Regions from separate parts of the Homo sapiens genome. Here region 2 is linked to region 1. A link means that fine-mapping ties the variant in region 1 to the plasma level of a protein whose gene starts in the linked region. Region 1 holds a variant in brackets. A gene starts in the other region. All regions are shown on their reverse strands. Region 1 has its middle 15 kb from the start of LIF-AS1. Region 2 holds the start of CCL21 (C-C motif chemokine ligand 21).

What was found. A credible set is the group of variants that fine-mapping cannot tell apart. PIP is the chance, under the fine-mapping model, that this variant and not a neighbour inherited with it causes the effect. The UK Biobank Pharma Proteomics Project read protein levels with antibody pairs (Olink). The fine-mapping took linkage between variants from a reference panel, not from the people measured, so its PIPs are less certain.
Region 2: CCL21 starts here. The variant in region 1 is the best candidate, but not a certain one, in a credible set for the plasma level of the CCL21 protein (UK Biobank, PIP 0.84).

The regions. Positions count from the first base shown.
Region 1 is chr22:30,218,104-30,230,460 of GRCh38, reverse strand. No RefSeq gene overlaps it. Among named protein-coding and RNA genes, the nearest start is that of LIF-AS1, 15 kb to the left of the region's middle. RefSeq lists enhancers at 740-1,675, 2,967-3,763, 6,578-7,077, 7,078-7,579, 8,560-9,190. The variant G/A (reference allele first, on the strand shown) is at 7,020.
Region 2 is chr9:34,703,530-34,715,886 of GRCh38, reverse strand. CCL21 (C-C motif chemokine ligand 21) reads left to right here and starts at 5,751. Exons shown (of 4, transcript NM_002989.4): 1 at 5,751-5,887; 2 at 5,990-6,110; 3 at 6,205-6,387; 4 at 6,460-6,882. The coding sequence starts at 5,821. The coding sequence ends at 6,493. It also overlaps a transcript of PHF24 not described here.

The DNA of each region.
Region 1 (12,357 bases):
TTTTCTGCAGTTTTTTTTTTGAGACAGAATCTTGCTCTCTTGCCCAGGCTGGAGTGCAGCGGTGGGATCTTGGCTCACTGCAACCTCTGCCTCCTGGGTTCAAGCGATTCTCGTGCCTCAGCCTCCTAAGTAGCTGGGATTACAGGTGTCCGCCGCCATGCCTGGTTATTATTATTATTATTATTATTATTATTATTGTTATTATTGTATTTTTAGTATTTTAGTAGAGATGGGGTTTCACCATGTTGGCCAGGCTGGTCTCAAACTCCTGGCCTCAAGTGATCTGCTCACCTCGGCCTCCCAACGTGCTGGGGTTATAGGTGTAAGCCACTGCACCCAGCCTTTTCTCTAGTTCTTACTTCCTTTGTTTGTTCAACAAATATATATATATAATTTTTTTTTTAGACCGAGTCTCGCTCTGTCACCAGGCTGGGAGTGCAGTGGCACGATCTTGGCTCACTGCAACTTCTGCCTCCTGGGTTCAAGTGATTCTCCTGCCTCAGACTCCTGAGTAGCTGGGGCTATAGGCGCCTGCCACCATGGCCAGCTAATTTTTGTATTTTTAGTAGAGACGGGGTTTCACCATGTTGGCCAGGATGGTCTCGATCTCTTGACCTGGTGATCCACTCGCCTCGGCCTCCCAAAGTGCTGGGATTACAGGCATGAGCCACCACGCCCGGCCTGTTCCACAAATATTTACGAACCACCTACTATGTTCTGGATGACGGCTGGATGCAGGTCTCAGTCCTTATGTACACAGGATGGTATCAGCGGGTGACAGAATGCCCTGGAAGATGACACTATCGCAGAGCCTGGGGAGGGGCTGATTTAGATGGGTGGGCGGGAAAGTGACATTTGAGCAGAGACCTGATGGAGGAGCCTCAGTTTCCCCATCTGCTGCCTCCTTAGGGCTTCCAGGGCTGCTTATGGTAGGAATAGGTTGGCTCTGGCCAAGAGACTGCGTTTCTCCCAAACCCTTTAGGGTAAGACCCCTTGGATAGGGGCCTCCCATCTCACCCTCTGGTCCTCGGAGGGGCTGCCACCTGGTGGGGAAGAGGGTGGGGCCATGGAGGTAAGGGGTGAGGAAAGGGGCAGGGAGGAAGGGACTCATCCTGACAGTGGTCAGCAGCGCCCTCCCTTCCTTCCTGTGTTCCCAGAAGGGGCGTCCTGTCCCGAACCCGCAGCTGGCCAGGCGGACCTGACCCCAGCTGGAGGGCTGTGCTGCGTGGGCTTCCTGCAGGGTGTAGCTCGGACCCCCTGGATGGCTGGTTGCCCTTGGCAAAATGGGCCAGAGTTTCCCTCACAGCCTTAGGGAATGGCCTTGGCGGGCCCCTCTAAGCCCCTGACCCGGGTGCCCTTGGAGGTAGGTGACGGCCCAGGCGTGTAGTGGAGGGTGGTGGGGTGACAGCGGTCAATGCATGGGCCCTGAGGCCCCCCCGAATGCCGGCCAGCATCATTTCCTGCTCCACTTTCTCTCTTCTGCATAGGAGTTCTCTGGTTCTCTGTAGATGAGTCCCTTCATCGACAGCAATTTTCTGCTGGACTAATCTGGTGAACAAATTGCCAACAGTGATGACATGAGGCCCTGTCAGGGGTGCTGGTGGCTCCATGGCAACACCACTAGGTCACACATTTACATTTTAATTGGGGCCTTCAGTGCCCTACGGCAAACGAGTGACTAATGCTGGAATTTTAGGCACCGGGGAACATGGGGAGTAAGGCGCCTTGAAGTACAGCACATATTTAAAAAGTCATCCCTTACAGGTGAATAGGGCTTTGGCATTTACTAACATAAAACTCATCTCATCTCATCGGCATTCGTTGACTTAATTCCATAATAGCTCTACTGGAGAGGCAGTTCTGTTTTTTTTTTTTTTGGAGCAGGATCTTACTCTGATGCCCAGGCTGGAATACAGTGGCACCATCACAACTCACTGCAGTCTCTCTCCTTTTTTTTTTTTTGAGATGGAGTCTCACTCCTGGCGCCCAGGCTGGAATGCAGTGGCTCGATTTCGGCTCACTGCAACCTCCACCTCCCAGGTTCAAGCAGTTCTCCTGCCTCAGCTTCCCAAGTAGCTGGGATTACAGGCATGTGCCAACACGCCCAGCTAATTTTGTATCTTTAGTAGAGATGAGGTTTCACCATGTTGGCCAGGCTGGTCTCAAACTTCCGACCTCAAGTGATTTGCCCACTTCGCCCCCCTAAAGTGCTGAGATTACGGGCATGAGCCACCACACCCAGCCACAACTCACTGCAGTCTTGATCTTCCAGGCTCAAGCAATCCTTCTGCCTTAGCCTCCCCAGTAGCTGAGATCACAGGCGGGTATCACACAGCTATTTTTTTTTTTTAATTTGTAGAGATGGGGTCTCACTATGTTGCCCAGGCCGGGCAGTTCTTATTTTAGACTTTCATTCATGTATTCATTCAGCATCTGGCTCTGTGCCAGGTACTGAACCCCAGGGTGGAAACACAAGATCCCTTCTACAGAGACACTATGTGGTTACTGTAATACATAAGATAACTATTGAATAGGAGGCAGCAAGGAGGAAATGGAGGCCCAGAGAAGTGGTGGGTGCTCTCGCAAAGAACATACCTCCCTACCCAAGCCTCCTCACTCCTGGTCTATACTAGCATTGCCCAAAGTACTTCCTCTGTACTAGCATTGCCCAAAGTGAGTTGTGTTGCTCTCCATTCACAAGGCAGTGCACCAGCATTCAAAGAAGAAAACCTGACTTTGCATCAGAAAAGTTTGGGAAAGAGTGGGTTAAACAAAATGAAAAAGAAGTGTTTGTTGCAGGACTTATCAGAGCCTTAAGGGCAGTCAGGTGGGGACAGAGTATGCAGCATGTCTGTGGATTCTTTGCCAGCAGCTCTTTCAGGACCACATTCCATGGACACTGGGAAAAGCTGACCCAACCACCTCCTTTAACATCTTTTTTCTTTTTTTCTTTTTTTTTTGAGACAGAATCTCACTCTGTCTCCCAGGCTGGAGGGCAGTGGTGCTATCTCCGCTCACTGCAGCCTCCACCTCCCAGATTCAAGTGATTCTCTTGCCTCAGCCTCACGAGTAGCTGGGACTACAGGCATGCACCATCATGCCAGGCTAATTTTTGTATTTTTTATTAAAGTAGAGATGGCGTTTCACCATGTTGGCCAGGCTGGTCTCGAACTCCTGGCCTCAAGTGATCTGCCCGCCTTGGCCTCCAAAAGTGCTGGGATTACAGGTGTGAGCCACTGCGCCAGGCCTCCTTTAACATCTTCAGCAGCTTTCTCACAGGCCGCCACCTGCCTAGCAGGCGCTGGCTAGATTGTGACTGCAGACCTTTCTCCTCCATCCCCCCAGGTTTCCCCTGTGACTTGGGGTTCTGGAACAGAAGGGGAGTTGACCAGGCACTGCTCCTCCTGCCCTAAATTGCAGCTTCATCCCACACCTGCCAAGCAAGGGGTTGGAGATAAACTCAGGGTGCACCTTCAGAGGGGTCCCTGCAGAGGCCTCACCTACCCCTGGCCTCCCAGAGCAATCTTCCTAAAACACAAAGCGGCTGACATAGCTCCTGCTTAAACCAACCGTGGCTCCCTAGTACCTTCAGGACCAAGTTTGAACCTCAGCCTCATTTTCCCCTGGCTTCCTGCTTTCTGCTCCAGCAAAACTGAACTGATTTTGTCCCTGGGACATGCTATGCTCATTCCAGCTTTCCTGGGAAGTCCTTCCCATCCCAGGCATTCCCTCTCACTGGTTTTATTCTTCCTTAGATGTGACTCAACTCAGGTCTCTTTCTTGGGAAAATCCCCCAGGCACTCCCAGGCTGGCCTCTCCCCGACAGTCTAGGAAGTGATCCTGTGAGTGTCCGCCTCTCCAGCAGGACTATAGACTTCCGTTCTTCCCCGCCAGGCCTCAGAGCCACGCTGGCGCTCACAAACATATACCGACTCCTATGTGTCAAGGCTGTTCTGGACACATGGGTTTCCAGGGGGACACCATAAACCCACAAATTGACTGTGTGACCTTGGGCAAGTTCCTAGAGCTCTCTGTGCCTGTCTTCCTCCTCTGAGGAGCAGGCTTACTGTGAGTTGAGAGAGGTTCGGCACAGAACAATGTCTGGCCTGTATGAAACAATGCACGTATTGTGCTACGATGACAATGGTGGTGTTGGCACAAGACTCTTGGGGCACCTGAGGATCCCTGTGTCACTGACTGGCTGGCTTTGGGCAAGAGCCTTTGTCCACCTGAGCCTCAGCATCCTCAACGGCAGAATAAGGTTGTTGAACGGCTGATCCCCGGGTAGGTTCAATGATGTCCCCTCCCCAGCCTCCAAGATACACCTACCTCCTGGAACCCGTGAATGTGACCTTATTTGGAAAAAGGGTCTTTGTAGATGTAACTAAGTTAAGGATCTCTAGATGAGATCATCCTGGAATATCTATGTAGGTCCTCAACCCACAGAAGTGTCCTTATAAGACAATGACAAGTGTCCTTACAAGAGAAAGGGAGAGAGGCTCGAGGCACGCAGGGGAGAAGGCCAGGTGAGGACAGAGACAGAGGCTGGGGTGAGGCAGCCATAAGCTCCGGGGCACCTGGAGCCACCCTCCAGAAACCACCTAGAAGAAGCAGGCAAGGATTCTTCCCTACAGCCTTGAAATGGGTGTGGCCCTGCTGGCACCTTGATTTCAGACTTCTGGCCTCCAGAACTGTGAGTGAATAAATGTCTGTTATTTCAAGCCACCCAGTTTGTGGTAATTTATTATGGCAACCACAGGAAACTAATACAACCCCTAAAGGGCTCTGCCAGCTCCAACAAGAACTGATTCAGAGATTCTCACAAATATCAGAAACGTTTCCCGTGGCCAGCCTCAGGGCTCCCGAAACCTAGAAATCGGGCTCTGGAAGGAGAACCCTTATTCCTTCTCTGGGATATTGATCCTGGGACACCAGCCCTCCCTTCTTCATCATTCTGTAATGACCCACCAGTACTCTTGGCAGTTAGCTGGAGGAATCTTTTGGGATGTTTCCTCATGCCTCTTCCACTTAGCTCAGGCTGTTCCCTATGAGGAAATGCTGTTCCCTGCTGCCTCCATCTGTTACTTGATTACGCAGCCTCCAGATCAGCCCGGACACTTCCTTCTCAGCAAAACCTCCTTTTGCCCCCTCTCCAGCTGCCTGGTAAAGTTAACTCTTGGCCCTTTGTCCTAAGGGCTATGTCTTTATCCATTTTTCTTTTCTTTTTGAGATAGAGTCTTACTCTGTCACCCAGGCTGGAGTGCAGTGGTACAATGATCATAGCTCACTATAATCTCAAACTCCTGGGCTCAAGCAATCCTCCCATCTCAGCTTCCCCAGCAATCGGGACTACAGGCATGTGCCACATGCCTGGCTAATTATTTTAGAGACAGGGTCTCGCTCTGTTGCCCAGGCTGGTCTCAAACTCCTAGTCTCAAGCGATCCTCTTGCCTTGGCCTTCCAAGGGCTGGGGGTTATAGGCATGAGCCACTGTGCCTGGCCCATCTTTCTATTATCAGAGTCTAATTCAATCCTGACCTGAGGGCAGTCACTCAACCCACGCATGTTCACGGGAAGGTGGGCTCCCATCGAAAAGCCCCAGTTTCCAGGTTAAAAGGGCAAGCCCAGCTTTGCTCTGGTCACTCAGTGGATGGCATGGGAGCCCCTGATAGTGAAGCTGAGAACTCTGGCTTCAGCCACTTGCAAGGGACTCCACCTCTCTGAGCCTCAGTTCCTCAATCAGTAAAAAAAGGAAAGGAATGCATGGTAAACCTCAAAGCGATGAGAAAATGCTTGTGAGTCTTTTCAGAGCTCCGGCCTTGTGACAGTGGCTCTCCTGAGGCTGTGGCCACTGCTGTCAGGCTGGGACCAGACCTGGGGTGTCTCCATTCAGGGCTCTGTCATCCAAACACCGCAGGGTCTGACCGGGTGTGCTCATGTCCCTGGTCTGTAACCCTTTCTGGGGTAATGAGTTCCATAAGTTTATCTTTGCTGGGTACTGTAAATTCCTGTTTACCAAGGGACCCACAGAAATAAACAGAATACTCGGATGACCAGAATTTTCCATCTCAGCATGTTCGAGGATAGCCCGAGTCACAGCTCTCACCGGCAACCTTGCAGAGCCCTGAGGGCATCCTGTAAAGCTGGGATGCGCCTCACCATTAGGTGGGGTCAGTTACAGAATCGCAGATCACGGCAGCCAGGAGGACCTCAGAGAAACCTTGGGAGTTTCTAACCAGGCTCTGAGGATCTCTGTGGGGCTGGCAGGTGACTCAGAGCCACTTTGGGAAGGGTTTTTTTTTTATTGTTCTTTGGGACAGAGAATTGCTCTGTCACCCAGGCTGGAGTGCAGTGCCACAATCTCAGCAAACTCTGCCTCCTGGGCTCAGACAATCCTCCCACCTGAGCCTCCGGAGTAGCTGGGACTATAGACACACACACTGCACTCTGCTAATTTTTGTATTTACTTTTTGTATAGATGGAGTCTCACCATGCTACCCATGGCTGGTCTCGAACTCTTGGACTCAAGTGATCCACCTGCCTTGGCCTCCCAAAGTGCTGGGATTACAGGCATGAGCCACCACTCCTGGCCTTGGGATGGGGTTTTACATATGGGATATTACATGAGATTTTCCTTTAAGAAGTAGGGACTTCTTCTGCTAAAACCAAAATAAAAACACCCGGAAAGCTTGGAAACTGCCAACATAGTTCAAATCTTCATCGCTCTACGAAAGAAACCCCACAAAGACAGCCCCACAAAGGGCGGTGGGCTTCCTGCCAGCCCATGCTATGGCTCCCACTTAATCAGAATATTCAGTTAACAGGAACGCCCTCCGCCTGACCATTTCCCCGTGGGACTTCCCTTGTTTCCCCTAAAGCGTCCTCCTTCTGGCTTTGAAGACAGAGACCAGGTCGGGTATCTGGGGTTTCATGAACGAGGCTGTGGTCACCCTCATTATCCAGGTCATTTCCTCCTACAGGGGAGGCTCCTGCCCACACGTCCTGCCCCTCGTCCTTCC[G/A]GTGGACACTGTGGGCCTCTCTCTGGGTTAGAGACCTGTGCACGGAGGAGCCGGACAGCGGGCTGCTTCCCAGGGGTGCATTCAGGGGACTCGAGGGCTGCAGAGTCAGGCAGCCCCAGCTGACCAGGGCTGGTTCACGGATACCCCTGAGCCGATGTGTCTGCCTCAGTCCTCAGTCCCTTAGTACATGTGTGGTGAATCCCTACTATGTGGGGATCCAGAGTTGAACAAGAGCCAACTGGCCCTCCAAGAGCCCAGCGTCCAGTGGGAAGACGGACATGGAGACCCTAGACACGGTGCTATTTAGGGGAGCACAGAGGTGCTGGAATATAATAAAAGATGGGGTGTGAATGGGATGGGTGGGGGAAGGATGAAGGGAGGGCCTGCAGCGGGTGGGAGGGACGCCATCCGGGATGTAAGGAGTTGGAATAAACACAGCCGAGGAGTGGGAGAGGTTATGTAAGAAGAGGTACCAACCCAGGCAGTTACAACATTAAAGGGCATGATGTGTCCAAGACTCTTAGCAGCATGCAGTCCACACGGGCTCAAAAAATGACAGTGACTCTTGTGGTTCCTCGTGTAGAATGACAGAATCCTAGGATCTCAGGGGGTCTTAAAGGTCATCTAAGCCAGAACTTCTTAACTGGGGGCAATTCTGCCCCAGGGCACACTTGACAATGTCTGGAAACATTTTTGGCTGTCACAGTTGGGGATGCTGCTGGCAACTGGCTGTAGACAGCAGGGATGCGGCTGAATATCCTACAATGCCAAGGGCAGCCCCCACCTCCAAGAGTGTGGATCATGCTGAGGTTGAGAAGCCCGGTGCTAGGGTAACCTCCCTCATAGAATCTGCTCCCCTCTGCACTACCTCTTCTGCCACCTGGTTGTCAGGCCTGCACTTGAATGCCCCCAGTGATGGGGAGCTCACCACCCTGCAGGCAACATGTTCTATCTGTAACTGGCTCAGTGTATTCAGAATGCTCTTTTCCATAACGAACTGAATCCCTTCTCCATGTTCCTATAACCTCCTAGGGCATTTGTCCTTGTTCTACCCTTGGGACCACCCGGAACTAGCCTAATTCAGCTTCTACCTAAAAGGCTTTCAAATATTTGATGGTGTGTTTGTGAATCTTTCCTGCTCCAGCCTGAACACCCTCCATGTGACCCAGGAAGTTTGGCTTGGGGTGTCGGGGTGGTCTCTACCTGTGTGAAAAGCACAAGGACCCCAATTACCCCAGCTTGGCAGCCAACGGGGCCAGAGGAAAGCAAAGAGGTGGGTGGTGATGTCCAGGCCCCAGGAGCCCAACATCCCCATGGTTCTCCTGCCTGCTCCGTGATGCTGCTTCTCCAAGCCTCAGTTTTATCTCCTGTCAAATGGGTATAAGGACACCCACCTGGCCTTTTGCACTCGGCACTGTGAGGCTCAGAGGAGGTAAGTAATGAGAAGATGCTTCAGAAAGGTGAAAACACTGCACGAAGAGGTTGATATCCTCACCATCCAAGAAATGGATACCATCACCATACAAGAGGTTAATATCATCATGCCCACGATCCTCCCATCCCTTAGGTCTGCATGGCCAGGTGTTTTCATGCACATTGCTTTGTCTTCCTCCAGTGCACACTCTGTGCTCCCCGACGGCAGAGGGAGAGCAGCACTGGCGGTCCCCATTTTACAGACAAGCAAACTGAGGCTCAGAGACTGCAAATCACACATGGTGGGGCCAAAAGGCTGAACTCTCCAAAAAGCCAAAAGGAGACCCCATGACTCCAAATTCAGGACTCATTAGTGCCAGGGCCACGGTGACTTGGGGAGACCAAGAGAGTATCAGGGCCGAGGAGACAGGAAGCTGGTGGCACCACTGGGGACCGTCATCAGGGCCCGCTCCTCCTCCACACACTTCTTGTGCCCCCTCAAAGCTGCCTGCGGTTGGGTTCCACAAGCCTGACTGGTGGCATGGCCGTGGGCCGTGGCCGGTGTGGCCTGCGCCTGGGGCACCTGCTTCTCTCTCACACCTACCCTCCTCTCTCGCTTCCTCTCGCGGCTTGGGTTTCCTTCCTCCCTTCAAAGCTCACAAGTTCTCTTCTCTAGAGGCCACTTTCTTTTTTTTTCTTGGAATCTGCCCAGGGAGAGACACCTGTGTTTCTGTTTCGATTCCTCCCCAGGCACTTCTGTTTCCTGGGGAGGCCTGAGGGTAGCGGGGACGTGGCCCCTGGGCAGCAGGTCCGGCTCTGTGGCCACGAAGGCCATAGAAGCCTCGGTCCCTCTGTCTCCAGGCCCTGACACCCGACGACATCCCCTCCTCCTGATTCCCCGTCTGCCCTCCCTTTGCCCTCATCACTCCAACCTGAGCCCCAGAGACTCTCAGCCTCAGAGATGGAAGGGCTTTTGTTAGAACCCAGGCCCAGAGAGGGGCAAGGGCTTGCTTGAAGAAACACAGGGGGTAGAGGTAGATGTCGGGGGACTGTCCTTCCCAGGACACCAGGCAGGATTCTCCTCCCTGTCACACCCCAACCTCCACCCAGAACATTCCCTGAGTAGGCTTCCACCCTTTTCACCTGTGACATCTTCTTCTGCCTCTTGCTTTCTTGCCTGACTCATTTTTCAGGACTCAGCCCAATGGCACCTGCTCTAGGAAGCCTTCCTGGATTGCCTCTCCCTTCACCCAAGCTCCCTAGGCTGAGAGGTGTCCCCCTCTCTTCCCATAGCACTGTACTAACATGGCCTCTTGTGGAAAACTTATTTTCACTCCTGAGCTCAGACACCTGTCCTCAGCCAGCCCCGCTCACCAGGTCGTCTCCCTGTGCCCCGCCTGTGCCTGCTGTATTATGACAGGAATCGTTTACTTCTCTATCCTCCCCGACCTGTGAGTTTCTCAAAGCCTGCACCTTCACACTTTTCTTTTTTCAACAGCTTTATTGAGAGAGAATTCACACACTGTAAAATTCACCCATTTAAAGTGCAGAATTCAGTGGTTTTTAGTGTATTCACTGATATTTGCAACCACAGTCAATTTTAGAACATTCTTACCACTGCAAAAAGAGAGCTTGGGCCAGGTGCTCACGCCTGTACTCCCAACACTTTGGGAGGCTAAGGAAGAGGATGGCTTTAGCCCAGGAGTTCAAGACCAGCCTGGGCAACATAGCAAGACCCCCATCTCTACAAAAAGAAAAAAAAAAACAAACTAGCCTGGCATGGTGGTGTGTTCCTGTGACTCCAGCTACTCAGGAGGCTGAGGTGGGAGGATGTCTTAAGGCTAGGAGGTGGAGGCTGCAGTGAGCTATGATTGCACCACTGCACTCAGCCTGGGTGACAGAATAAGGCCCTGGAAGGAAGAAAAAAAGAGAGAGAGAGAGAGAGACAGACAGACAGACAGAGAGAGAGAGAGAAAGGAAGGAAGGAAGAAAGGAAGGAAGGAAGGGAGGGAGGAAGGAGAGAGAGAGAGAAAGAAGAAGAAAGAAAGAAAAAGAAAGAAAGAAAAAGAAAGAAAGGAGAGAGAGAGGGAAAGAGAGAAAGAAAGAGGAAGGAAGGAAAGAAAGAAAGAGAGAGGGTGGAAAGAAAGAGAGAGAGGGAAAGAAAGAGAGGAAGGAAGGATGGAAGGAAGAAAGAAAGAAGAAAGAGAGAGAGGGAAAGAGAGAAAGAAAGAAAAGGAGAGAGAAAGAAAGAAAAGGAGAGAGAAAGAAAGAAGAGAGAGAGGGAAAGAAAGAGAGAGAGGAAGGAAGGAAGAAAGAAGAAAGAAAGAAAAAGAAAGAAAGAAAGAAAGAACCTATACCCTTTGGCTATCACCCCCCATGCTCACCCCCAACCACGAGAAACCACTGATCTTTGTTTCTATGAATTTTCCTATCCTAGATATTTCATACACGGAATATCTATATGGAATTACCACATGTAGCCTGTAGGGACTGGCTTCTTTCACCCGCATAGTGTTTGCAAAGTTCATGCATGTTGTAGCATGGGTGGGACTTCATTCCATTTTATGGCTGAATAACATTCCACTGTATGGATATTCTACATTTTGTTTTTCCATGTGGGTAGTTTCCACATTTTGCCTGTTATGAATAATGCTGCTATGAACATTCATGTTCCTGTCTTTGTGTGTGCCTGCGTTTTCCTTTCTCTCAGGTGCATATGGAGGAGTGAGATTGCTGGGTCACGTGACAACTCTGTCTAATTACTTGAGGAACTAACAGGCTGTTCCGCAGTGGCTGTGCCATTCCGCATTCCCACCAGCAGTGGACAGAGGTTCTGGTTTCTCCACATCCTGGCTATCTCTCGCATTATGTGACTTTATTATTTCTTTTATTTATTTATTTATTTTTTAGAGAAGGGGGTCTTGCTACATTGCCCAGGCTGGTCTTGAACTCCTGGCCTCAAGACATCCTCCTACCTCAGCCTCTCAAAGTGCTGGGATTACAGGCATATACTACCATGCCTGGCCTTATGTGATTTTTTGATTCTAGCCACACCTAGTAGGTACAAAGTGGTGAGTCTTTTTATTTATTTATTTTTTTGAGACGGAGTCTCTCTCTGTCACCCATGCTGGAGTGCAATGGTGCTATCTCGGCTCACTGCAACCTCTGCCTCCCAGGTTCAAGTGATTCTCCTGCCTCAGTCTCCCGAGTAGCTGGGATTACGGAGGTGTGCCACCACACCTGGCTAATTTTTGTATTTTTAGTAGAGACAAGATTTCACCATTTTGGCCAGGCTGGTCTTGAACTCCTGACCTCAGGTGATCCGCCCTCCTCAGCCTCCCAAAGTGCTGGGATTACAGGTGTGAGCCACTGTGCCTGGCCTAGAAGTGGTGAGTCTTAATTCTTTTATTTGCAGGGGGTGAGGCCTGGCTATGGAACTGTCAAGGCAGACCTGGGGCTGGAAGCCCAGCTCTTCAGTGCTGGGGGACTTTGGGCAAGGTCCTTTCCTCTCTGCGGGTCTTGCCACTCTCTTCTGTGGAGTGCGACTCCGGTAGATGGATATGAAATGTGAAGTACTCAGCATGTTGCTGGCCTGCAGCACGTGATCATCCACGTGAACCCCAGTAACAGTGACAATGGTCGTGCCGAGAGCCTCGCATGGGCTCTGGCGCCCAGCCGGCCCTCCTGGGTGTAGGTGGAGAGAACAGTGGCTGGTGTGCCCCGGGGAGGATGCCAACCGAGGGCCTGGGCTGGACGGGAAGGTACCCGGGGAGGCACTCCCAGCCTCCTGTTCAGGGGCCCCTTGGCCAAAGTCCCTCAGAGGCCAGCTCCTGTTAAGCCTGGGGAGCAGTTTTCTTTATACGGCTGTTCTGAGACTCAGCACATATGAGCTTTCTCCTGATGGTTCAAATTAGAAAGCAGCTGA
Region 2 (12,357 bases), not on the chromosome of region 1:
GGAATGTGGCCCTTTCCAATTAGGGGATTTCCAGACTCTTGCAACACCCACACCTAGGATGTCTACTCCAGGTGCCTGTCCTAGAGAGGTAGTGGGCCTGCTGAGGTAGGTGTGAATAAGCACACTTCCTCTCCCCCTCCCAGGATCTCAGTCTGGTGAATTCATCATCACGGGTAGGGCTGAAATCAGCCATGTGTACCTCCTTTATCCTTCACCCCAGGTACCAGTGAAGCACTCCTCTGCACCTAGGCCATCCCAGAGGTTGTCACAAAGTAGCCAGTTTCTCTCAGGAGCTCACCAAGCCAACATCTTCACCCAGAGGACTGGAACTGTAGGTGGAGACCCACATCTCGGATGTGCAGCCATCTGAGTCTTTGTGTCCCCTTCCCCAAGCTCTGCATCCAGCCTGGTCTGAGGACTGAGAGGAGCTTGGGTCAAAGCTGCAGGCTCCAAATCCCCAAACCCAGCTTACAGTTCAAGTGGGGCTGTGGGGTACAATAAACCCAGGCCAGCAGCTGAGGGCAGAGGAATGGCTCAGAAGACTTGGGGTCCCAGAAAAGGGTAATGGCTCTCTCATCATCCGAGCTCCTCACTCTCTTCTACCCTGCTTCAGTGCCTCCCTCTCACCACCCCTGCCACCAGGTCCACTCACAGACTGGAGACGGGGTAGGGACTCGCTATCCCATCCTCACTCTCAGGGCAGCTGTTTTCTGCGCTGGATTTTGTCCAGCCAGGTTTCCACCTCCAGAAAAGCCCCTACTGCTTCCTTCATTTCCCTTAGGGCTCCTAACCTTGATTCTAAGCTCCAGCACCAAGCAGACAGACCTCAATATCTCCAGGATGTAACATCTCCCTGAGACTGCTCTACCACTGCAGGCTCAAGTTCACAGGCAGGGGCTTAGGGTTGATGCCTAATCAACCTAGATTCCTGCATCTAGGAAGACCAGGCAGAGATGGGACCTAGGGGGTTGTGCACACCATCTGACACAACAAGAAGCTTCTTTCATGGCATGAATAAGGGTAAGGGAGACAGGCAGGTATCTTGGAGAGAAAGCAAGCCTAAGCTTTTAGGAAAGAAAAAGGTACAGCCCCCTCCTCTTCCCTGCCATCTCTCCTTTTTTTCTACAATCTGTGCCAGGCGAGAAAGTCTCCTCCTCCAGGGGAGGTAGAGGGGGCATCACTCCAGCTTTCCTTTCCCCAGACCAACTTTGTTCCCTTTCACCGGCTCTGTGTCAATCTAGAGTGTGGGATGGGGAGCAGAATAGGCCCAAGTGGCTCTCCCAGCCCCACCCCACCAAATGCTTAGAATTACCTGCAGAACTTGGTAAAAATACACATTTGTTGGCTCTATTCTGAGATTCTATTTAAGGCGGTCTGGCGTGTTGCTTCTAATTCTGTTTTTAAAAAGTCACCCAGGTGATTCTGAAGTGCAGCCAAGTTTGGAAGCAAACTAATATAATATGACTTCGGAATTATCTGCATGCCCCCTCCCAAGCCCATGCTATTCTATCTGTCTGAGAATTCCTCAGAGACAGGCTGCTCACTACTTTCTTAGTCACTCCCATTAGGCAGGTGGGGAAACCAGGGAGCTGGGAATTTAAAACTTTCTGGTTCCAGGATCTGCCTCTAGACCAGGTAAAAGATCCAAGAAATCTTATCTCCTTGTTTTTGCCTAGTCTTGTTCCAGGAACACCAGCTTCTTGCCAACAGAGTCACTCCCTGCCCTGCTTAAGGTCTCAGCCTTAAGGTCTCTTGAGTCTGAAAACCTCAGACTCAAGAGCTCAATTATTTCTCCTCTAGGCCACCAAATTCCAGCCCCTCTACTCTGTGGACCTTAGAATGAAACACCACCTCTTTATCCCCCTCCCAACAGTACCTCCATCTTCAACCCCATGCCTTCTGCATCCCATCCTTCCCCAAGAGCAACCCAATATTTCTGTCTCTGGCCATGGCTGTCCTGACTACATCTCTCCTGACACTCATTTCCTCCTCTTCCTATGGTTTCCCTATCCTGTCATAAGCCATCCTTCAAAAAACAAGATGTAAGGAGCTTGCTGCTGAGTTTAGCACTCTGGAAACCAGATGGATTCTCCAGCTCTGACGTGAGGATTACAACTCTAAGGTCCCAATCCAGTATTAAATATAGATTCTAAGTTATGACCCAATAACCCTCACACATCATATACCATAATAAACTCCAAATGGATAAAAGATTTTAAAATGTTAAAAATTAAACTACAGAAAAACATCATACAAAATGGCAGAGTAAGAAGTTATAGGGGTTGGTCCCTCCACCAAAGCAACTATTGAGGTGGAAAGAGCAATTGGAATCGACTCTTTCAGAAGTCTGGAGCCCGATTGGACACTTATAACAAGCAGGGGGGGTGGTACTTGATGAAGGGAGAGGTTGCTGGTCTTTCAGAAGAGAGCATAATGCATGCACTAGCTACCAACCAACACAGTGGGGATAGCAGCCCACATTCCTGAAGTAGCTGGGTGGTCACTGAGTGGGCAGGGGGAACCCTGTCCTCCAAAAATGAGGGGTTTTGCATTTGGGTTTGTCTTCTGGTTCCCTAAGGGACAGGCTTGCTTTGTTTCAGCCCTCTTGGGCTTCAGGATCTTCCTGAGCCACATATATCAGAAGATTTAAAGGGACAGAATCTTTTTGCGGGGAAGGAAGAGAACCCTTTGTCAGGTCATAAACAGAAATTTCAGTAACCCCACAAAACAAAGAATACACACTTTGCAAAAAACCGTTTGAAAAAGTCACCACAAATTGATGGCAGAGTTCTCAACAAGTGTATATCAGCAATCCCTAAGGAGTGAAAAAATTGAATTTCTAGAGATACCACACTGTAATATTCAGAATGCCCAGTTATCAACAAAAAATTACTAATACAAAGAAATAGGAAAGTATGGCCCATTCACAGGAAGAAAGGAATTTGACAGAGACTATCCCTGAGGAAGCCCAGATATTGGACATAGTAGATGAAGACTTTAACTGTCTTACTGTAAATGCTCAATAAATATTGATGATGGGAGGTTTGATGATAAGGGTGAGAAGCTGAAATCTCAAATACTGCTTTGTTGCTTGTTTTATTATGACCTCAAATTAAATTGGGAAACAATGGCCCTTTTGGAAAAAAAAAATAACTGTCTTAAATATGCTCAAAGAGCTGAAGGAAACCATGGGCAAAGAGTTAAGGGAAATCTGAAAAATGGTGTATGAACAAAATGAAACTATCAATAAAGAGATGGAAATTAGTAAAAAGAAAAAAAGGACTCAAGCAGAAATTCTGGAAGCAAAAATACAATAACTGAAATGTACAATTCACTAGGGGCAATCAACAACTAATTTAAGCAGAAAAAAAAGGATCAGTATTCTTGATGATAAGACAATTAAAATTATCAAGTATGAGAAGAAAAATAAACGAGCCTCAGGGATACCATCAAATGTACCTCATCACAGGAGTCTCAGGAGGAGAAGAGAGGGAACAGGGCATTAAAAAAATTGAAGAAATAATGACAAAACATCTGAAATCTGATGAAAAGCATGAATATACATACCCAAGAAGTTCACAAACTCTAAGAAGGATAAACTCAGAGATCCACACCAAGACAAATTATAGTCAAATTGTTGAAACCCAAAGATTTTAAAAGCAGCAAGAGAGAAGTAACTCATTATGTACAAGAGATTCTCAATAAGATTACCAGCTGATTTCAGAAACCATGGGAGGCCAAAAGACAATGGGGGATATATTTAAAGACTGAAGAAAAAAAAAAGTCAAACAAGAATTCTATATATCCAGCAAAACTATGCTGCAAGAATTAAGGAGAAATAAGACATTTCCAGATAAACAAAACTTAGGAAGTTCATTAATAGTAGACCTGCCCACAAGAAAAGCTAACGGGAGAAAGAAAAAACAAACAAACAAACAAACAAATGCTAAAGGAAGACCTTCAGAATGAAACAAAAGGACAAAAAATAATAACTCACAGCCACACAAAGAAACAAAGATCTCTGATAAACATAACAACATAGCAGGCTGGGCGCAGTGGCTCATGTCTGTAATCCCAGCACTTTGGGAGGCCAAGGTGAGCGGATCATTTGAGGTCAGGAGTTTGAGACCAACCAGGCCAACATGGTGAAACCCCATCTCTACAAAAAATAGAAAAATTAGCTGGATGTGGTGACAGGTGCCCATAATCCCAGTTACTCGGGAGGCTGAGGCAGGAGAATGGCTTGAACCCGGAGGGTGGAGGTTGCAGTGAGCCAAGATCACGCCACTGCACTCCAGCCTGGGCGAAAGAGTGAGACTCTGTCTCAAAAAAAAAAAAAAAAAAGTAACAACATTGCCAGGTATGCTGGTTCACACTTGTAATCCCATTACTTTGGGAGGCCAAGGCGGGTGAATTGCTTGAGGTCAGGCGTTCGAGACTAGCCTGGGCAACATAGTGAGACCTCGTGTCTACAAAAAATACAAAAATTAGCCAGGCATGGTGGCCCCACTACTCAGGAGACTGAGGTGGAAGGATCACTTGAGCCCAGGAGGTCGAGGCTGCTGTGAGCTGAGATTGTGCCACCGCACTCCAGCCTGGGTGACAAAGCGAGACCCTGTGTCAAAAAAAAAAAAAAAGATAAAAGCTAGTATTGTATTTTTAGTTTGTAGCCCCACTTTTTTCTATATAATTTAAAAGGAAAATGCATTAAACAATAATTATAAATCTATGTCAATGGGAACACAATGTATAAAGATGTAATCTGTGACAATAACAATATAAAGAAGGGACTAAAATGTATACGAGCAAAATGTTTATATACCATTGAAACTAAGTTGGTATTATTCAAACTAGGTTGTTATCAGTTTAGAATGTTAATTATAATCACCAAGGTATCCATTAGGAAAATAACTACAAAATATATAGAAAAGGAAAGCAAAGGGGAATCAAAATGGTTATGCTACAGACCAGGTGCAGTCGCTCATACCTATAATTCCAGCACTTTGGGTGGCCAAGGCAGGAGGATCGCTTGAGCCCAGGAGTTCAAGACCAGACTGGGCAACATAGCAAGACCTCATCTCTAGAAAAAATAAAAATGAAAAATGAAAACAGTAGCCGGACGTAGTGGCATGTGCCTGTGGTCCCAGCTCCTCAAGAGGCTGAGGCAGGCAGATCATTTGAGCCCAGGAGCTCAAGACTAGCCTGGGCTAGACATCGTGAAACCTCGTCTCTACAAAAAAAAAATAGAAAAATCAGCCAGGCGCAGTGGTGCTTGCCTGTAGTCCCAGCTCCTGGGGAGGTTGAGGTAGGAGGATCACTCGAGCCCAGGAGGCGGAGATTTCAGTGAGCCAAGATCAACCACTGCACTCCAGCCTGGGTGACAGAGTTAGACCCTGTCTCAAAAAAAAAAAAAAAAAAAAGAACTCTTACAATTTAATAATCAGATTTGCTGGAAGGAGGGGAAGGGTATGGATCCTGGAGCGTAGTGAGGAGACAGTCATGGTGTTCCAGGGGAGAGGCAGTGAGGCCTGCATGAAAGCAGTAGCTGGGAATAGAAGGAAGGCTCAGGCCCAGACATATTCAACTAATGAGGACATAAAATTTGGCAGCTGAGGACTGTCCACTTAGTTTGAGATAAGTGGGGCTGGGTGCCAGCAAATCCAGCTTTCAGGAAGGAAAAGGAGTGGGGATAAGTTAAGGGAAGTGAAAGTGTCTAGCTACATAAATAGCAGGCCAATCCCAGCCCACGCACAGACCCCCAACTTGCAGCTGCCCACCTCACCCTCAGCTCTGGCCTCTTACTCACCCTCTACCACAGACATGGCTCAGTCACTGGCTCTGAGCCTCCTTATCCTGGTTCTGGCCTTTGGCATCCCCAGGACCCAAGGTACCAAGGCAGGGAGGGGCCTTGCATGGGGCTAAGGGGATCAAGAGGCCTGGATAGGAGCTTGCCAGCAGCCCCTGGCTCCCTGTGAATCCCACCCTGCAGGCAGTGATGGAGGGGCTCAGGACTGTTGCCTCAAGTACAGCCAAAGGAAGATTCCCGCCAAGGTTGTCCGCAGCTACCGGAAGCAGGAACCAAGCTTAGGCTGCTCCATCCCAGCTATCCTGTGAGTGGACACAAAGGGGTGGGTACTGGCTGGTGACGGGGTGGGGAGGGCATGGTGGGCAAGACTAAGAAGGCTTACTAGCCCCCACCCGCAGGTTCTTGCCCCGCAAGCGCTCTCAGGCAGAGCTATGTGCAGACCCAAAGGAGCTCTGGGTGCAGCAGCTGATGCAGCATCTGGACAAGACACCATCCCCACAGAAACCAGCCCAGGGCTGCAGGAAGGACAGGGGGGCCTCCAAGACTGGCAAGAAAGGAAAGGGCTCCAAAGGCTGCAAGAGGTGAGGAATCTGAGGGATGTGGGTAAAGGGGAGCCTCAGTCAGCCCCTCACACCCCTCTTCTGCCCTCACAGGACTGAGCGGTCACAGACCCCTAAAGGGCCATAGCCCAGTGAGCAGCCTGGAGCCCTGGAGACCCCACCAGCCTCACCAGCGCTTGAAGCCTGAACCCAAGATGCAAGAAGGAGGCTATGCTCAGGGGCCCTGGAGCAGCCACCCCATGCTGGCCTTGCCACACTCTTTCTCCTGCTTTAACCACCCCATCTGCATTCCCAGCTCTACCCTGCATGGCTGAGCTGCCCACAGCAGGCCAGGTCCAGAGAGACCGAGGAGGGAGAGTCTCCCAGGGAGCATGAGAGGAGGCAGCAGGACTGTCCCCTTGAAGGAGAATCATCAGGACCCTGGACCTGATACGGCTCCCCAGTACACCCCACCTCTTCCTTGTAAATATGATTTATACCTAACTGAATAAAAAGCTGTTCTGTCTTCCCACCCAAGTACCTGTTCCCATGTGTTTATGTCCACCGAGATGCCAAGGTTCCTACAGGGTGGGGTCACACACTCTGAGCCGAAAGCTCAGGCTGAAAAATGCTATGTTCTCATCTACCCCAAGAGTTTCCTTGCCTCTCAGGTGCCTGCACCCCTGAGCAGTTAAAGGGAGGCTGAAGGACAGGGTAGGACCCAGTCTTCTGAGGCATCCTGCCAATGGAGAGGTGGTGGACATGGAGCACACACCCCCAACAGCTCTGCAGACCTCTGAGACCCTGATTCTGTCCTGCACTAACTCCAGGGGTGACCTTCGGATCTTTTCCATGACCTTCAGACCTTTCCCCAGATATCCCAGAGGCTTCCTCTCTTTTCCCTGGGAACTATTCAATGAGACCCTCCAAGTGGTTCTTTGGAAGGGTCCCTAGGAGGGAAGCTGTGGCTTGGGCCCATCTATAACACAGACAAACACAAGTTATATTGAAACCTGCCCTAGCACAGTTCCAGCCCTGAGAGAGCCCCTGGGAGGCAAAGACCCGAGGGGACTTGCTTCAGCCCTATTCAGTGAAGCTCGGGCCTTGACCTCTCCTCTTTGTTTAATGGGGCTGTTGTGCTCTCCTTCTATTCCTATCTGGGCCCCTGGACTCACTCAGCCTCCTTCCAGATGGAAAAACCTCCTCCCTTTTTTTTTCCTCCTTTCTTTCCTGGCTGGGATCCAGACTACTTTAGCCCATTTAACCCTTTGAAGTCAAGGAATAAGTCTCCTGGGGCAGGTTTTCAGAACCCCAGGATTCAGGTGTGAATCAGTCTCCTCTCCTGGAAGGCCTCAGATGGCTCTCCTCTACCTCTTCCTCCCCAGAGTGAAGACCCTTCTATTCCCCAAATCACCTCCAGGCGGGGAGAGTAGAAGCCATCAGATTGGGCCAGACAATGTGAGAAAGAAGGGAACAGATCCTGGGGAAGGGCAAGAAAGGTAGGAACCTCAAGGCCGGGCGCGGTGGCTCAGGCCTGTAATCCCAGCACTTTGGGAGGCCAAGGCAGGCGGATCATGAGGTCAGGAGTTCCTGACCAGCCTGGCCAACATGGTGAAACCCCGTCTCTACTAAAAATACAAAAATTAGCCGGGCATTGTGGCGGGCGCCTGTAATCCCAGCTACTCGGGAGGCTGAGGAAGGAGAATCACTTGAACCCAGGAGGCGGAGGTTGCAGTGAGGTGAGATCGATTGTGCCATTGCACTCCAGTCTGGGCGACAAGAGCAAGACTCCATTTCAGGAAAAGAAAAAAAAAGGAGGAGAAGAAGAAGAAGAAAGGTAGGAACCTCAGAAGCTAGAAGTGGCTGCTCCATCAACTTTTCCTTCTGTAGGAGCCTGAGTATGCCACAGCACTTACCACCTATCCTAACATCCTCAAGTATTGGCTTGTCTGCTCCTCTTGCAGCAGGTGAAGACAGGGCCTCTCCCCTGCCTGTCCTAGGGCAGCAGGTGTGAAATTAATCTATAAACTCAGATATGCAAGAAATACTACTTTTGAAATGTTCCTTAAATGAACTTAATTCCTACTCCAAGCTACTGCACTAGAGTGCTGATGAGAAATTCAACATCAGGCACTCTTGTGGGATCCCACCTGCCAAGGGTTATGCAAAGGTCACAGAAACCTCAAGGCCCAAGGGAGGCCTCCTACCTGCCTCCTACACCATCCTATCATTGGACATCAGTCTCGCCAGTGAGTGTTCTGACCCCTGTGGTTCCAGCAGGTATATCTCTTCAAGTCCTAGACTCCACATTTGAGACATAAGAATTCAGATATGACAGCCTCTGGGCTTGGACTTGACCTCCCCAGATACCCCCGAAGCCATCTACTCAACAGTCCTGTCACTTGCCCCATCACAGACAGAAATTAGAGCCCAGTGCCCACTCTGGCTGGATGTACACACTAATCCCTTCGCAGTCCTAAACAATTGTCTCCCTCTCCTCAGCCCCTCCAGGGCATAACCTCTTCCCCAAGTTTACAAGTTTACTTTTTTTTTTTTTTAAGGCTTGCTTTGTAGTCCAGGCTGGAGTGCAAAGGTAGGATCATAGCTCACTGTAACCTCAAACTCCTGGGCTCAAGGGATCCTCCTGCCTCAGGCTCCAAGTTGCTGGGATTACAGGTGTGAGCCTCTATGCCCGGCATTTTCCCCTGGTGTAAGACATTTACAAAAGGCCTTTGACGTCAGGCTCCCTTTGACATCAGGACATCACTCCCAGCCCTGCCAAAACTCTTGCCTACTCTATAGTGAAAAGAAAAACATAGGCAGAAAAAACAAAACTCTCTATTTCACTAAATTCTCCTGCCACACCTGCATGCCTGGTATTTGCCTCAAGCCCTGCTCTGAGTAAGCATGCAATATATTATTTATTCCATCAGATCATGACTGGCCACTCTCCTTGTCTGCCTTCATCTTTGACAACATTGTCCTGTTCTTTCTCTTTTCTCTCTTATTCTCTTGATGCATAATTCAAAAAATATCACATAATACACACTCACAGTTAAAAAATATATCCAAAAGTACCAAAAGGTTTATTCTGAATAACATAATTTCCTACAACTTTAACTCCTATGCTATTTCTTAGTGCCATATGTCTAAGTACTTTGCCTATACCTCTGTTTCTTGATTTACCTATTTTAAACATTACCAGATGACTTCCTACTATAAAAAGTGAAGATCTAACTCTCTTGCCAACTCTCCTCTCCTGTCACTGCATCCTCTAAATATAGTCATACCATAATATTTAGATCATGATTATATTACCATATTTAGATCATAATTACAGTTTATATTATTGTGGATTACTATTACATAATATGTATTATCACATATTACATTATTTTGACTATATAAATGTTCTCTGCAGACAAAAGTAGTGCACTTTTCCTTCGTCACTCATCTTTTTGTTTTTCTTAAAGGTTCTAATGCCCTTCCCTTTTTAAAATACCTCTATCTTGACATTGCCTTTCAAATTCTTCATCATATGAGATGGATTCAAAACATAATGTTTAAGATATACGTAGAAGAAAATATAGGTGAATGTGGTTATAACTTCGAGGTATAAAATAACTTTTTTTTAAAATAAAATGGAGACCAGGTCTCACTATATTGCCCAAGCTGGTCTTGAACTCCTGGGCTCAAGCGCTCCACCCGCCTCAGCCTCCCAAAGTGCTGGGATTACAGCCATGAGCCACTCTGCTTGGCCAAAAAGAGTTTCTTAAACAAGTCATAAAACCATAAAACGTAAATCATTAAAGATCAACACCATTAAATTTAAAAACAAATCGGAGTTCAGGGTAGGGATGGAAAATTAATTACATGCCTTTATTTTCACTTCTCACTGAGCCCCGACTAAAACTACAGTAAATTTTTTTGGTGCATGTATGCGTGTAAAGGCATAAAGCAAGGCCAGGCGCAGTGGCTTACGCCTGTAATCCCAACACTTTGGGAGGCCAAGACGCTCACTTCAGCTCAGGAGTTTGAGACCAACCTGGGCAACACAATGAGACCTCGTCTGTACAAAAAATAAAAAAAAGTAGCTGGTGTAGTGGCATGTGCCTATGGTCCCAGCTACTCAGGAGGCTGAGGTGGGAGGATCACTTGAGCCTGGGAGCCATATAGCCTGGGCTAAAAAGTGAGAGACCCTGTCTCAAAGTAAATAAATTAATTTTAAAAATAAAATAAAGGCATAAACCCCCAAGAGCCCAAATGGGAGAGGAGATAAAGGTAACTTTCCAAAAGCCTACTGCTGAGACACGTAAATATTTCAATAAAAATAGATACAAAGCATAAAATCAAATTATAAATATGAAGGATTTCTAATGTCTTATTCGTGAATACAGTAAAAATTCATATTTACTGAATATTCATATGCCAGTATCCAACAGGGAAACAATGACTTCTACTAGAGATGTAAAAAAAAAAAAATCCTAAAGATGAATTATCTCTAAAATCTACAAAATCTTCATTCCTTAAGCATGAAAACTCATTTTAATCCCTGGAATCCTGACTTTTCTTTATCACAGAACCACAGAAGCAATTTATTGCTTTAAAAGTGAGTTATCACTATGTTCTAACAATGAGTCCTCCTCAGTGTCATCCAGAAAATTACTAATACCATGTATTTTTGTTGTTTTTATTTGCTCCTTTTTTGAGATAGGGTCTTGCTCTGTCACCCAGGCTGAAGTGAGTGGCGCAATCTCAGCTCACTGCAACCTCAACCTCCTGGGCTCAAGCAATCCTCCCACCTCAGCCTCCTGAGTAGGTAGGACTACAGGCACACACCACCACACCCAGCTAATTTTGTTCATTTTTTGTAGAGACGAGGTCTCACTATGTTGCCCAGGCTGGTCTTAAAACTCCTGAGCTCAAGGGATCCTCCCACCTTGGCCTCCCAAAGTGCTGGGATTACAGGTGTGAGCCACTGTGCCTGGCCATACCATGTTTTTAAATAATTTCACCACTATCTCTTCCACAAAATGATAACATACACACACACACACACACACTAATGAAATCATGGGCTGACTCCCACTTGTCAGTGTTGCCTCAGAATCTCCTCCTGCTTCTCCCGGTTCACTCCTTCCTTGTCAATATTTTAAGGGCTTCTTTGATACAGATATAGAGGATAGGTGGGACTAGTAAAGAATTAGAGCTAGCTGGGCATGGCAGCTCACGCCTATAATCCCAGCACTTTGGGAGGCTGAGGTGGGCAGATGGCTTGAAGCCAGGAGTTTGAGACCAGCCTGGGCAACGAAGCAAGACCCCTGTCTCTACAAAAAAAAAAGAAAGAATTAGCCAGGCACGGTGGCACAGGCCTATTGTCCTAGCGACTTGGAGGCTGAGGTGGGAGGATCACTTGATTGCCTAGGAGTTCGAGGCTGCAGTGAGCTATGATCACACCATAGCTGATCATAGTGGAGCAATACCCCACCTTTAAAAAACAAAAAATTAGAGCTAATAGATCTCAGGCCAGGAACCGTGGCTCATGCCTATAATCCCAGCACTTTGGGAGGCTGAGGTGGGAGGATCTCTTGAACTCAGGAGTTCGAGGCTGCAGTGAAAAACAAACAAGCCTCAGTTAGTCCTATAAACCTGAAACCAATTCCAAAGTAAGCAGTCGGCCAGGTGCGGTGGCACACACCTGTAATCTCAGCTCTTTGGGAGGCAGAGGTAGGAGAACGGCTTAAGCCCAAGAGTTTGAGATCAGACTGAACAACATGGCAAGGCCCTGTCTCTACATTTTATTACAAGAAACTTTTTTTTAAGTGAAAGCAAGTTTATTAAGAAAGTAGAGGAATAAAAGAATGGTTACTCCATAGGCAAAGTAGCCTACAAAAAAACTCTTAAAGAGTAAGCAATCAGATTTCTTAAGAACCCCTCCCTTCAGGATACTTGGGCCACACTTTGGCTGGCCACAATTCCTACTTATTAATGATATCCTTTTAGAGGGCTGTG